2 separate regions of the Homo sapiens genome follow, and region 1 is linked to region 2. The links come from fine-mapping of genetic effects on plasma protein levels. A gene starts in region 2. The other region holds a variant in brackets. All regions are shown on one strand. Distances are from middle to middle.

Region 1 (5,318 bases), 44 kb after region 2:
AGGCACTTTTATACAGTTTTCTATTAATTCCTACTACAACTCCATTAGGCAAGACTGTTTCACAGATTGGTGAAGAAGAAAGGTTCAAAAAGGACATGTTATCTTGCCTGAGTTCACCTATTATAAATGTACTTGTGTTTATACTCATTTGTCACCGACTGCAACCTAAACATCTAAACACATTCTCTCACAGCCACAATGCCACCACTATACACATTATATGGTCTTTTATAGACACAACACAAATGCACTTACACTTGCCTATGCGAGCTGTATGTGTTTATACACAAATATGTGTTTCCAACTATAGGCATATACTACACACACAGTTTACACAATCACCTACAAATTCTGTATCATGCTTGCTTGCTAAAATTGTTTTGCCACTTCCTGTCCTTCCTGACCAACTGTAGGCCAATGTCCTCCTCTTCCCTCAGTTATGGCTGTGTGCTTGCACCTGTTGGTACTTACAGACACCTGCACTAATAACCCTGCTCTGTGTTTCATTTCATCCTCTAGCCTGGGAGCCCCGAGACACCAGCAACTCATCAGACTTATTGTTTGTATTATTTCTAGTTCTTTGGGTGTGAATTCTTCATGATGTGGAGGCTCTGAGCTGTCTTTCACAGCTCACGATTTGTAGTTTTGGTCTGTGAGTTGACAGAGTAGGCCCTGCAGAGTCACTGACTCCAAGCTGTTTTTATATAATGCCTCAGCTTAGGATTTCTGCACCACGTGGGTAGCTTATATCGGGGCCTTACACCAGTGCAGAGGGCAGGCTTGAGGCTGATCTGGTACACACGTCCCTTGTTCCACCCATGGACTGTGAGAGGACCTCAGCTCCTGCCGTGACTCTAGGCTGATGGCTGAGAAACTCTGTTCCCATAATCAGTTCTGACACCCACTTTACACTGAGAACTCAGATTTGACTTTCTGCTAACAGCAGGACCTGTGGCCTGTACCTAGTCCCAGATTTGGCATTAAAATCTCAGCCCAACAATGCATATCCAATCTTGGTTTTCCCATGGGCTGTTGGCCACGTTCCTCTCCCCCTGGTATAGATTCCTGACCCCTCTCTTTGATCCTACCTAAAAATTATGCTTTCTTGTTTTTTTTAGCTGGGACTTGTATGTTTAAAGTAGTTTAAAACAACTTTCTGCTCTGCATGTATGAATACGAGTGTGTGAGCGTGTGTAGCTGGCAGGGAGTTACTGGGTGTGGCTGTGCCAATGACTCCTGTGGACCTCTTCTCAGAGAAGTCCCTTCAGAATCAAATACCCATACCTGTTAGGAGCTGCAGTCACTGACTGGCAGCGTTTCATTCATTCACTGAATATTGGTTGAGCACTTGCAATGTGCCAGGCACGCTGCTAGCCAAGGAGGCAGTCATTAAACATACAGATAAACAAACAAATGTGAGATGACAATAGTTATGAGTGCTCTGCAGTAGACGTGCAGGGACCTGTGAGAGAATGTAGTAGGGAGGGCCTTAATTTAGGGTGTGTGGTCAGGGAAGGCCTCGCTAAAGATGTAGCTTCTAAGCTGAGATGCAAAGGAGGCAGTGAAGAGCTTTTTCCAGCAGAGGGAACACCATGAGCATAGGCCTTGGGGCGGACGTCTTAGAACATTCTAGAAACGGAAAGGAGGCCAGTGAGAAAAAGGGAGCTCAGGAGCAGAGGCTGGGGAAGGCTGCAGGGCCTCAGGGGCATTGGAGGCAGGCAGGGCAAGGACTCTGGACTTTATCCTGAGCACAGGGTGATGGGGCAGGAGAGTTTAAGCAGGGAGGGTGAAACTCACTCTGATTGGCAGCCCTGTGAAAGAGGATTGGCTGGGCATGGAGATCTAAGGATGAGGAAAGGATATCCCAGAGTGCCAGGGCGCGCAAACCAAACTTCACACTCTAGGAAGACAGAGGCCAGAGGAACCAGGAGGGCTTCCTGGAGGAGGTGGCATTTACTCTGGGCCTAAGAGATCACAGGAAAATGGAGGCCAGCATTCTAGGCCTGGGGAAGAGTTTGGGCAAAGGCTTGGCAGTAAGAGAATAAAGGTGGGGCTTGATGGGCCAGAGGATAAGTGACTCCTCAAGGTCACAAGACACCCTGATGGCTGGGACCCCATCTCTGATGGAGCAAGGCTTCTGATACCCAACTGAGGCTTGGCGCCAAGGACTGACATCAAGGAAGTGGATTCCTGCAAACCTGGCACCCGAGGGTCCACTTCCTCAATTTCTGTGCAGCTGGGAGGTGAGGTAAGAGGAAGTGTGGGCCACAGGCTAGGCCCAGAGAGCCTGGAGGAGGAGCCTCTGCCAGACTGGAGAGAAGCAGGCCTGAGCCTCCCCAAAGGCAGCTCCTGGGGACTCCCAGGACCACAGGCTGAGACGAGACGCAGGGTGGCTGGAGGAAGTGAGAGGTGAACTCAGCCTGGGACTGGCTGGGC[G/A]AGACTCTCCACCTGCTCCCTGGGACCATCGCCCACCATGGCTGTGGCCCAGCAGCTGCGGGCCGAGAGGTGAGTGCCGGGGTGTGGCCGCCCCCGGGCCTTCTCACTGCTCCTCATAGGCCTTAGGGACAAAGGCCAGTCCTTCTGCAGTCCCTGATCAACATGAGAGGCTGGGGTTGAGTCAGAACCCAAATACTCAGAAATGCAACCTCTCAGAACTGCTTTAACGAAACTTTGAGCTGTGGCTCACCACCCTCAGACACAAATGAGAACACTGAGGCTCCAAGAGTGGGAGTGACTTGCCCACGGTCACACAACGAGTGACCGGCAGTGTCTGGAGAGGAATGCAGGTGTCCTGGGTCCCAGGCTGGGGCCCTTTGCTTCACATGGTGATCAGCAATGACTTTCCATCTTCTGCGCAAACAGAATTCACAGAATCTGGCTTGTTCTTCCGCTAATCAGGGCTTGCCTCAAATGTCACCTCCTCCAAGAAGCCTTCCTGACAGCCCCTACCTCATTGCTGTCTGACCCTTTGCCCTATTTCCCTTTTCTGCCTGGTTCTTATATTACAGGAATAATATTATATGCTCATTTATTATTTTTTCTTGAACGTTGGCTCCCCCATGAGAAGCAAGCTCCACGAGGCTGTGTCCGTTTTGATCGCTGCTGTATCACTAGGAGGTAGCTCATCCCTATTGAGCACCAGGACCAAGGGCTCAATAAATGTTGCTGAATGAATGAATAAATGAATGAATGAATGGGTGGATCTTTGAGACGGAAAAGGTCTTAGATTCTTCTAGTCCAACCTTGCCATTGTACAGATTGGAAATCTGAGGCCCAGGGAGGATAAGAGACTTACTCAGGGTCACAGAGAGTGACTGGCAAGGTTGGGGCTTGGAGCACGGCCTCACCAGCATCTAGCCTCGTCGCTTGGGAAGCATTTTCAGAATTTTTCCTCAGTAGCCAGGTCTGAGCTCTAAGCTGCGGGGGCCCTGAGGACGCAAAGCCTGGCCCCTGCACCCCCTGGATTGGAACAGCAGGTGACCTCTGTTACCTACGTGGAGGCCACTCAGGGGGTCACCAGAGACAGGCCAGGCTGGTGTGTGCCTACGCGGGGAACAGAAGGCCCATGTTGGGGCCTGGGGCTGGAAGTAGAACCTGAAGCGTGGGTTGGGGCAAGGGCAGCAGAAGCAAATGCCTACAGGGGAGTCCACGTGGCCTTCCTGAGCCTCAGAGCGGGGTGCAGGAGCTGGGTAAGGCTGGCCGACCTGAATTCCTTCCTCCCCTCACATGCTCCTGGGGGACCCAGCCGCACGCAAACTCGAATCTTCCGGAAGCAGCAGCTGTTTGAGGCTTGGGCACTTCCTGCTTTCTGGGGTACAGGGTTCAGGGGATGACACGGAGAGCTGACCAGCAGGACTGTGCACTCCCTCCCCCACTCCCTGTCCCCTTTCAGCTGCCTTAGCCCTCAGAGGGGGAGGGACTGCTTTTCATGAGGCCTTGAGCCAGGTACTAGGGGCATGGGGGCTCCCTGTACCTCGAAGGTCTTATCTGAAAGCGAGCCTGGATTGTTCTGCTTAAGGTCAAAGCAGAGAGTACAAGGAGAGGGCGCAGGTTCGCGCAGCGGGGACTTTCTAGAACCCCAAGGTGAGACATCCAAAGATGGGGAGGGCTGCCTTAGGGGTGGCAAGTTCGGTTCCAACAGACATGTTTTGAGCACCTACTATGTGCCAGGTGCCAGAAAACCTGCCCTGGCTGCCCTCCAAGGGTTCTTCCAACCTCGGCCTCCCCCAGGGCAGGCTCCAAAACCTCCCCCAGGCCAGGCTCCAAAGTCTGTGAACTGTGCGAGTGTGTCTTGAGCCAGAACATCCCGGCCCAGTAGGGCCTGGGTGAGGTCCCCAAGGGAGCGGATATTCCAGGGGACTTCCGGTTGGGTTTGCTGCTCTTCTTGCCCGCCCCACAGGCAGCCAGGCCATTCTCATGCTGCCCATCAAAAAACTCTATAATTGCAGACGACGGTAGTGGCCGTGTATTGAGCAGTACTGAGCACCTACTGTATGCCGGGCTCTGTTCTGGGCACTGGGATGTAGGGTGAGCAGAGTCCTTGCCCTCATGGAGATTTTAGGGCTGTGTTTGTTACAGATGGGACTGCATGACCACCCGGAGACATAAGTACTTCTCCTGTCCCCATTTTACAGAGGAGGGAAGGAGCGGAGCACAGCTAGGAATCTTCCCAAGGGAGCTTGATCTTCTTGTCCCCAGTGCTGCGCCTATGCCTCGAGCATCTGCCAATGTCTGTCCTGCTTGACTCCTTCCTCAGCCCCCACCACCCCAGGGAAAACTCGAGGTCCCTCTGCGAGGCATCAAGGCACCTCGTGAGCGGGCCCTGCCTGTCTCTCCGACTGGTCTCTCATCACGTTCCACCTCCTGCTCTGTGCTCCAGCCATGCTCAGCAACCTGCGGTTCCCTGAACTGAGCAGCTCCATCCAGGGCACATGTTGACTTTGTTTACATCTGTGACCCAGGGCCTAGGACAGGGCCTGGTATGGAGATGTTTGATGCCTTATTCCCAGGTGAATCTGTGCAATTGACAGCAATGTGTTAGACTATAATTTGGCTATTGCTATATGGTCACCAGCTTCCCATTCCTACACTCAATATGGCCACCAGCTTCCCATTCCTGCACTCAGTATGGCCGCCAGCTTCCCATTCCTGCACTCAAGGCCTGGGCTGTGTCTTGTTATCTCCGTATTCCCAGGGTCAGTGGCTGGACCTGGCCTGGGAAGGGGTGCTGAGAGACGAATGTTGGCTTCACAACATTAGTTTGCTTTGCACTCTACCTCATACCCGGTGGGCCCACAAAACACATCAGGGTGATAAGC
Region 2 (5,297 bases):
AGGCTTCCTGGTGAAGGTGATACCTGGAGGACAGGGGGAAGTCAGCCTCTGTGAGTGTGTGTGTGTGTGTGTGTGTGTGTGTGTGTGTGTGCATAAGTGTGCATGCATGTTGGATGTAAGTGGGTAGAACGTGAAGATTCTAGACAGAAGGTACCCTTGTGAGATGGTTTAGGGGAGAGACAGGATGGGTGGGGAAGTCCCTACTTGAAAGGCCTCTCCCTACACCCACCCCCCGCTTCTCTTTTTGACAAAACTCAAGGCTTTCTTGGCCAGAAAGTGACATAAGGCAACCTGAGTCAGTAGACATGGCCGGGTGGCTGAGGGAATTATGGTGGGAGATGCTTTTGCAGATGGAGGCATGCATTTTCCTAGCCACAGCCTTCTCCTTCTCTGCTTTTCTCCAAGGACCCCTGGACTCTCAGAGGTGGTTCTGCATCCCTGGCTTGCCTAGAAATTGCACCAGCCACACTAGTACCAGAGGGCTGGGGGCTGCAGGAAGGTGGAAAGTGTCTTTTAGACAAATGAAAATCAATGAAATACTCAAGTGAATGCTTTCTGCCCTGCCTATGGTGTTAGGCAGCAAGAAAACTGCCTCTTCATTTGCATTAAATTATTAAGTAGCAACATTCCATTAGCAATATTAAGTGGCTATCATTTAACCTAGTTAGTTGCACTTTCAGCTGAGGGTTTTACTCTTCCGAAGCAATAGCACCAGGAAGCCTTCTCCCCTGGTGCCCTGGGTCGGAGCCCTGCCTTCACGCACGGTTACTTTCTGTGAAGCAGGCAGAGTGAAAGGCAGGTCTGATGGACACTTGGAAGCTAGAGTCCCAGCCCCCACTCCCTCTCGTGCAGCCGTGGGCTGGGCAGCCCCTGCAGGCCTCCGCTTACCCCAGCTCATCCTCCTCGATGAAGCCACTTTTGTCCTTGTCCAGCATGTGAAACACCTTCTTCACATCATCCGCACTCTTTTTCTTCAGGCCGACCATTTGGAAGAACTTTTTGTGGTCGAAGGAGTCGGTAGCTGTGGGGGGAAGAGCAGGGTCAAACAAGGACCAGAAAGGCTGGTAGGGAAGCCTGGGAGAATGGGGGGCATCAAGGCATTTGTTGATGGATTCCCACATGCCAGTCATGGGGAATGAGAGGTACCCACCTCCATTGGAGGGCTGAGGGAGCCCGGGCAAGGGAGGATAACCTGTCCAAGGTCACAAGGCTGGGAGTGGAAGAGGTGTGCTCAAACCCAGACCTCCCTGGCTCTCAAGCCCGCCCCCACGCCCCACCTCCACTGCACCCATTGCTGATGATGGGAGCAGCACCTAAGAACCAAAGGCTTTTGTTCTTCTGAGAACCTTGTGCCCAGGAAGACTTTTGAGTGCCAGCTGGTTGGGAGTGGGCTGGGGAATTGAAGGGGGCATGAACATGGTCCTGGGGTTAGGGGGAGGAGGGTTGACCTTCTTTCTTGGCCACAGACTTTGTTGCCAGAAAATTGACATAGAAAGGACAGGTTTCCCTCAAGGTCATACAGTGGGAGGAGGAGGGGCAAACCCGGAAGTCCTGGCTCTGCGCAGAAATCCACTTCGGAGGCAGTGGGAAGGGGGTGTTAGGAGGCTCCCGAGAAACACCCAGTTAAGTTTCTTCCCACATGGGCTTGAGGTGAAGGGAGAGGGTTATCCCAGGACCCTGGGAGGGTGGCTTCCCAGAGAGGTTCTTGTGCCCAGGGGAGGGGGTGCAAAGCAGAAAGGAAATGGGGGTCCTTTTCTACCTGCAATTTTCTGTATCTTGGGGTCCTGTTTTAGAACACCTGGGGAAGGGTACAATGTTAGATCATGTATTTTGTGTGTGTGTGTGTGTGTGTGTGTGTGTAGGGAATGGCTGTTGAAGTCATGTTCTCTTCCCCTCAGCACAGGGCTAGAGACAAGGAAAGTTGCCCTGTCCACCTCCGACACTAGGCTGGGCAACCCAGTTCTAATACCCCTTCTGCCCAGCTAGGTGACCTTGGGCAAATGTCTTGTCCTCTCCAAGACAGTTCCCTGATTTCCCCATCTGGAGGACAGGGGAGGAGGAAGGCGGGCAGCTTAGCGCTGAAGTCCCGGGCAGCTGGGAGAGGTGAGACTGCCAGTTCCCCTCCCCTGCCCGCCTAAGGAGGCTGGAGGTTTGAGGCACTGAGGATGCCCCGTGCGGGCTTAGGCAGAGCTGTGCGCCGGCTCCAGAAGGTCACCTCGCCCGCAGGTCCGTTGCTGAATCTCAGTAAAGGAACTAGGACAGTCAGGGGGCCAACAAAGGCTACCGCCTGGCGGGAAAAGTCCTGTCCAGAATGAGGGTCCAGGAAAGGGGTCTCTTGGAGAGGAGGATGCCCCCTGCAGTCCCCTCTAAGTGCCTTAAAGAGGACGTCCAGAGAGCTCGTACAAGGACCCTGGAGGTCTCTCCTCCGACCCTGGTCTTCGCCCTTGGTCCCGGACCCTGAGTCCTCCCAGCCACCGGGCCTTCAGCACCCTCAAGTTTCTGTAACTTAGGCGGGGCGCCCTCTTCCCCGCCCGCTCCCCGCGCCAAGCCTCGCCCGGACAGAGTTTGGGAACTGCCAAGGACGCCCCCGCCCCGACCTCGCCGGCGCCCAGCGGGAAGTGTGGGCAGAAGCGCGCTGGGGAGGATCCGCCGGCTGCGGGGCCGGCGGAGTGCAGGGGCGCGGGCGGTGGACGAGGGGAGAGGGATGGGGAGGGGAGCGCGCTTGCTCACCGCTAAAGGCTCCCACCGCCTTCTTGATGTCCTCAGCGTTCAGCAAGTCTGTCATCGACATCCTGCAACTGTTTGAGCGGGCAGAGCAAGTGCGAAAAGATTAAAAAGTGCTTTTCTCATCATTTCTGCTCATATGACCAGCGCTGCAGTGCTGCGCGCCGGGCGCACGCCCGCCGGGCCTGGCATGGCGCCAGGGGCCCGGACTCTGAGCGCAGCGGGAGCGGCTCAGTCCAGCCGCGCCGCTGAGCAGCGCCGGCCGCCGGCAAGAAGGCGCGCGGACCTGCTACCACTCCTGCACCGCCAGGCCAGGGGTCCGCGGGATCCCAGGGGCTGCGGCCAGGGCACGAGGGAAGGGGCCACCTCTGGGATTTAGGGGGCACTGGCGTCACCAGCTGGGTCTGGAAAGTCCACCTGCCGTCAAGGACACGCAGGAGGTGCGCCGTCTCAGATCTGGGAACCTTGGCGGATGTCCTGCCGCGTGGGGGAAGATCCTGAACCTTCAGCGGCCAGCCTGCACCTCAGGACCTCCTAGGCCCTGCTCCCTTTCTCTCTCCACTCCTACCTCAGCCTCTGCTCTGGTCTGTCCTGGATGCAAATTTATGCTGCAAAATCTGAGCGCTGAGGTCCTGAAACCTGACCCACCCGACGCAGGGAGGAGGTGGCAGGGACAGGGACAGGGACAGGCAGGAGCTGCTGGGGCCCACTTCGGGTGCCCCATCCCACATCTGGCCAGGGATGCATATTCTAAAACCTGATTTGATGTTTTACTTTTATTTTTTATTTTTTTGCTGGCTTGATTTTTCGAAGAACACTTCTCAGATCTCTACTAACTACTTGCTTTCCTGGTCTCCTGGGTCCTGGCATCATGGGTCCAGACTCCCCCTACTCCTATAAACCTTTTTTGGGCAGAGTAGGGTGGGAGAGTCCGCTTGGAATTGCTATGCTCCCTCCCAGAAAGCCCCATATGTGTTTGGAAGAAGGGTAGCACCTTCAGACCACACTTTCTAGACAACCTAAGCAGGTGTAGGGGTCTGAACTTCACCTCTGGAAAAATGTCACGGTGCCTATCTGTATGCAGCCAGAGACCCGTTGTGTTCTTCCCCATGGTTCCCAAGGTTTCAAGCTGCAACCAGCTGCTTCTAGAGTGTGTGAGCGCTGGACAGGGAGTCAGGAGGCCTGGGTTCTAGATCCTGGGCTGCACTAAGTCCCAGTGTGACCTTGGGTTGTGACCTTCTCTGGGCTTCTGTCTCCTTCTGATGTGTTGATGACGTCAGTGGTCCCATGTAGTGGGACCTGGGGACTGCAACTTAAGGTATTGGCAGGTAGGCAGGGCCTTGGGCTGTGGTGGCCCTGGGTGGTGGGGACCAGGGAGAGCAGCTGTCCAGCTGCCCAGTAACTCAAGTTCCCTGACATCGCTGTCAACATTGTCTCCTGCAGCTCAGCCCTGGATGGCTGCCCTTCCTGGAAACCTTAGGATACCTCTGCTGGCTCCAGCTGCCCCCTCCCTGTGAGTCAGCTCCTTCAAGCCACAGCCCGCCAGATGGCTTCCAAGGCACCAAGGATGCAGCTCCTGACCTGATGCCTCTCAGCTCCAGGACTTCCCAGGACCCCTCAGCTGCCCTGGACCCTGCTGCTACTGCCGTCACCTCTGCACCTTGTCCCCAGCTGGGCTGCTGACTCAGATATGCCAGGCTCCTATGCTATCATTTCAACTCCCAGGCTCAGCTCACTCCAGGAGCCTAGTTGGAGAATGGATTTCCCCAGCTGAAGGACGCTTCAGCTATACCAGTGGAGAAACGGAGGCACAGAGTCCGTGAATGGTCTAAGGACACATGGTAAAGCAATAGCAGAGCAGGGTACACCCCTGGACTCACTCGTGTGGAGTTCAGTGACTCTCTGGGTGATCCTCCCTGGTGCCTGGGACCCAGCTCTATCAGGTCCCATACATCTCAGCCACACACTGGCTCCTGGTGAGCCCCTAAGCAGCTACCCTGTGGCAAAGGCTGCAGCCTCAACAGGGGCCCACTCTTCTTCCATCTCCTTCCTCCATCTCTCCCTGCTGCTGAGTTCTCCTATCAACTTGACACCCCCTCCGGGACTGAGCCCTCCCAGCCAGAGCATCAATGTCATTAGGTCAGCCCATCAGCCCTGGGTAGTCCTCCTCTGCCCTCTGGGTCCTCTCTGATGGCATCACCAGAGTCCACAGATGTCTGACTCCAGCCCTCTCGTTCTAAGGCTGGGGAATCTGAGGCCCAGCCACGGGGGGCGGTGGGTGGGGGGAGTTTGCCCCAGGCCACACCAGGAGTCTGGGTGGAGAAGCAGGAATGCATGCTCTCAGCCCTACATTCCACAGCTGCCCTGCCTCCAGCACCCCCACCGCACCCCCCTCCCCGGGTCACTACGGACAGGGGAGATGTAGCTCTCCCTTCCAGCTGGCTCATCCTGCTGCATCCCTCTATCCTCCAACCTCGGTAGCTGCCACTCACCTCGGGTGGGGGTGGAGGGCTGGAGCCTGCACTGAAAGGCTGGGCTGGTGGGAAGTCCTGTCGGGAAGTGAGCCTGGAGGT

Which allele goes with the higher level. Alleles are on the strand shown, and positions count from the first base shown. The strength of an association depends on the size of the effect and on how common the allele is.
As copies of A replace G in region 1, the plasma level of the protein whose gene starts at base 2,821 in region 2 goes down (weak association).

What was found. A credible set is the group of variants that fine-mapping cannot tell apart. PIP is the chance, under the fine-mapping model, that this variant and not a neighbour inherited with it causes the effect. The UK Biobank Pharma Proteomics Project read protein levels with antibody pairs (Olink). The fine-mapping took linkage between variants from a reference panel, not from the people measured, so its PIPs are less certain.
Region 1: its variant is the best candidate, but not a certain one, in a credible set for the plasma level of the PVALB protein (UK Biobank, PIP 0.77).

The regions. Positions count from the first base shown.
Region 1 is chr22:36,858,699-36,864,016 of GRCh38, forward strand. It overlaps NCF4 (neutrophil cytosolic factor 4), which reads left to right and starts at 2,308. Exons shown (of 10, transcript NM_000631.5): 1 at 2,308-2,505. The coding sequence starts at 2,474. All of the region lies in intron 1 of NCF4-AS1 (NCF4 antisense RNA 1), which reads right to left. The variant G/A (reference allele first, on the strand shown) is at 2,437.
Region 2 is chr22:36,814,215-36,819,511 of GRCh38, forward strand. It overlaps PVALB (parvalbumin), which reads right to left and starts at 2,821. Exons shown (of 4, transcript NM_001315532.2): 1 at 2,731-2,821; 2 at 889-1,021. The coding sequence starts at 2,791.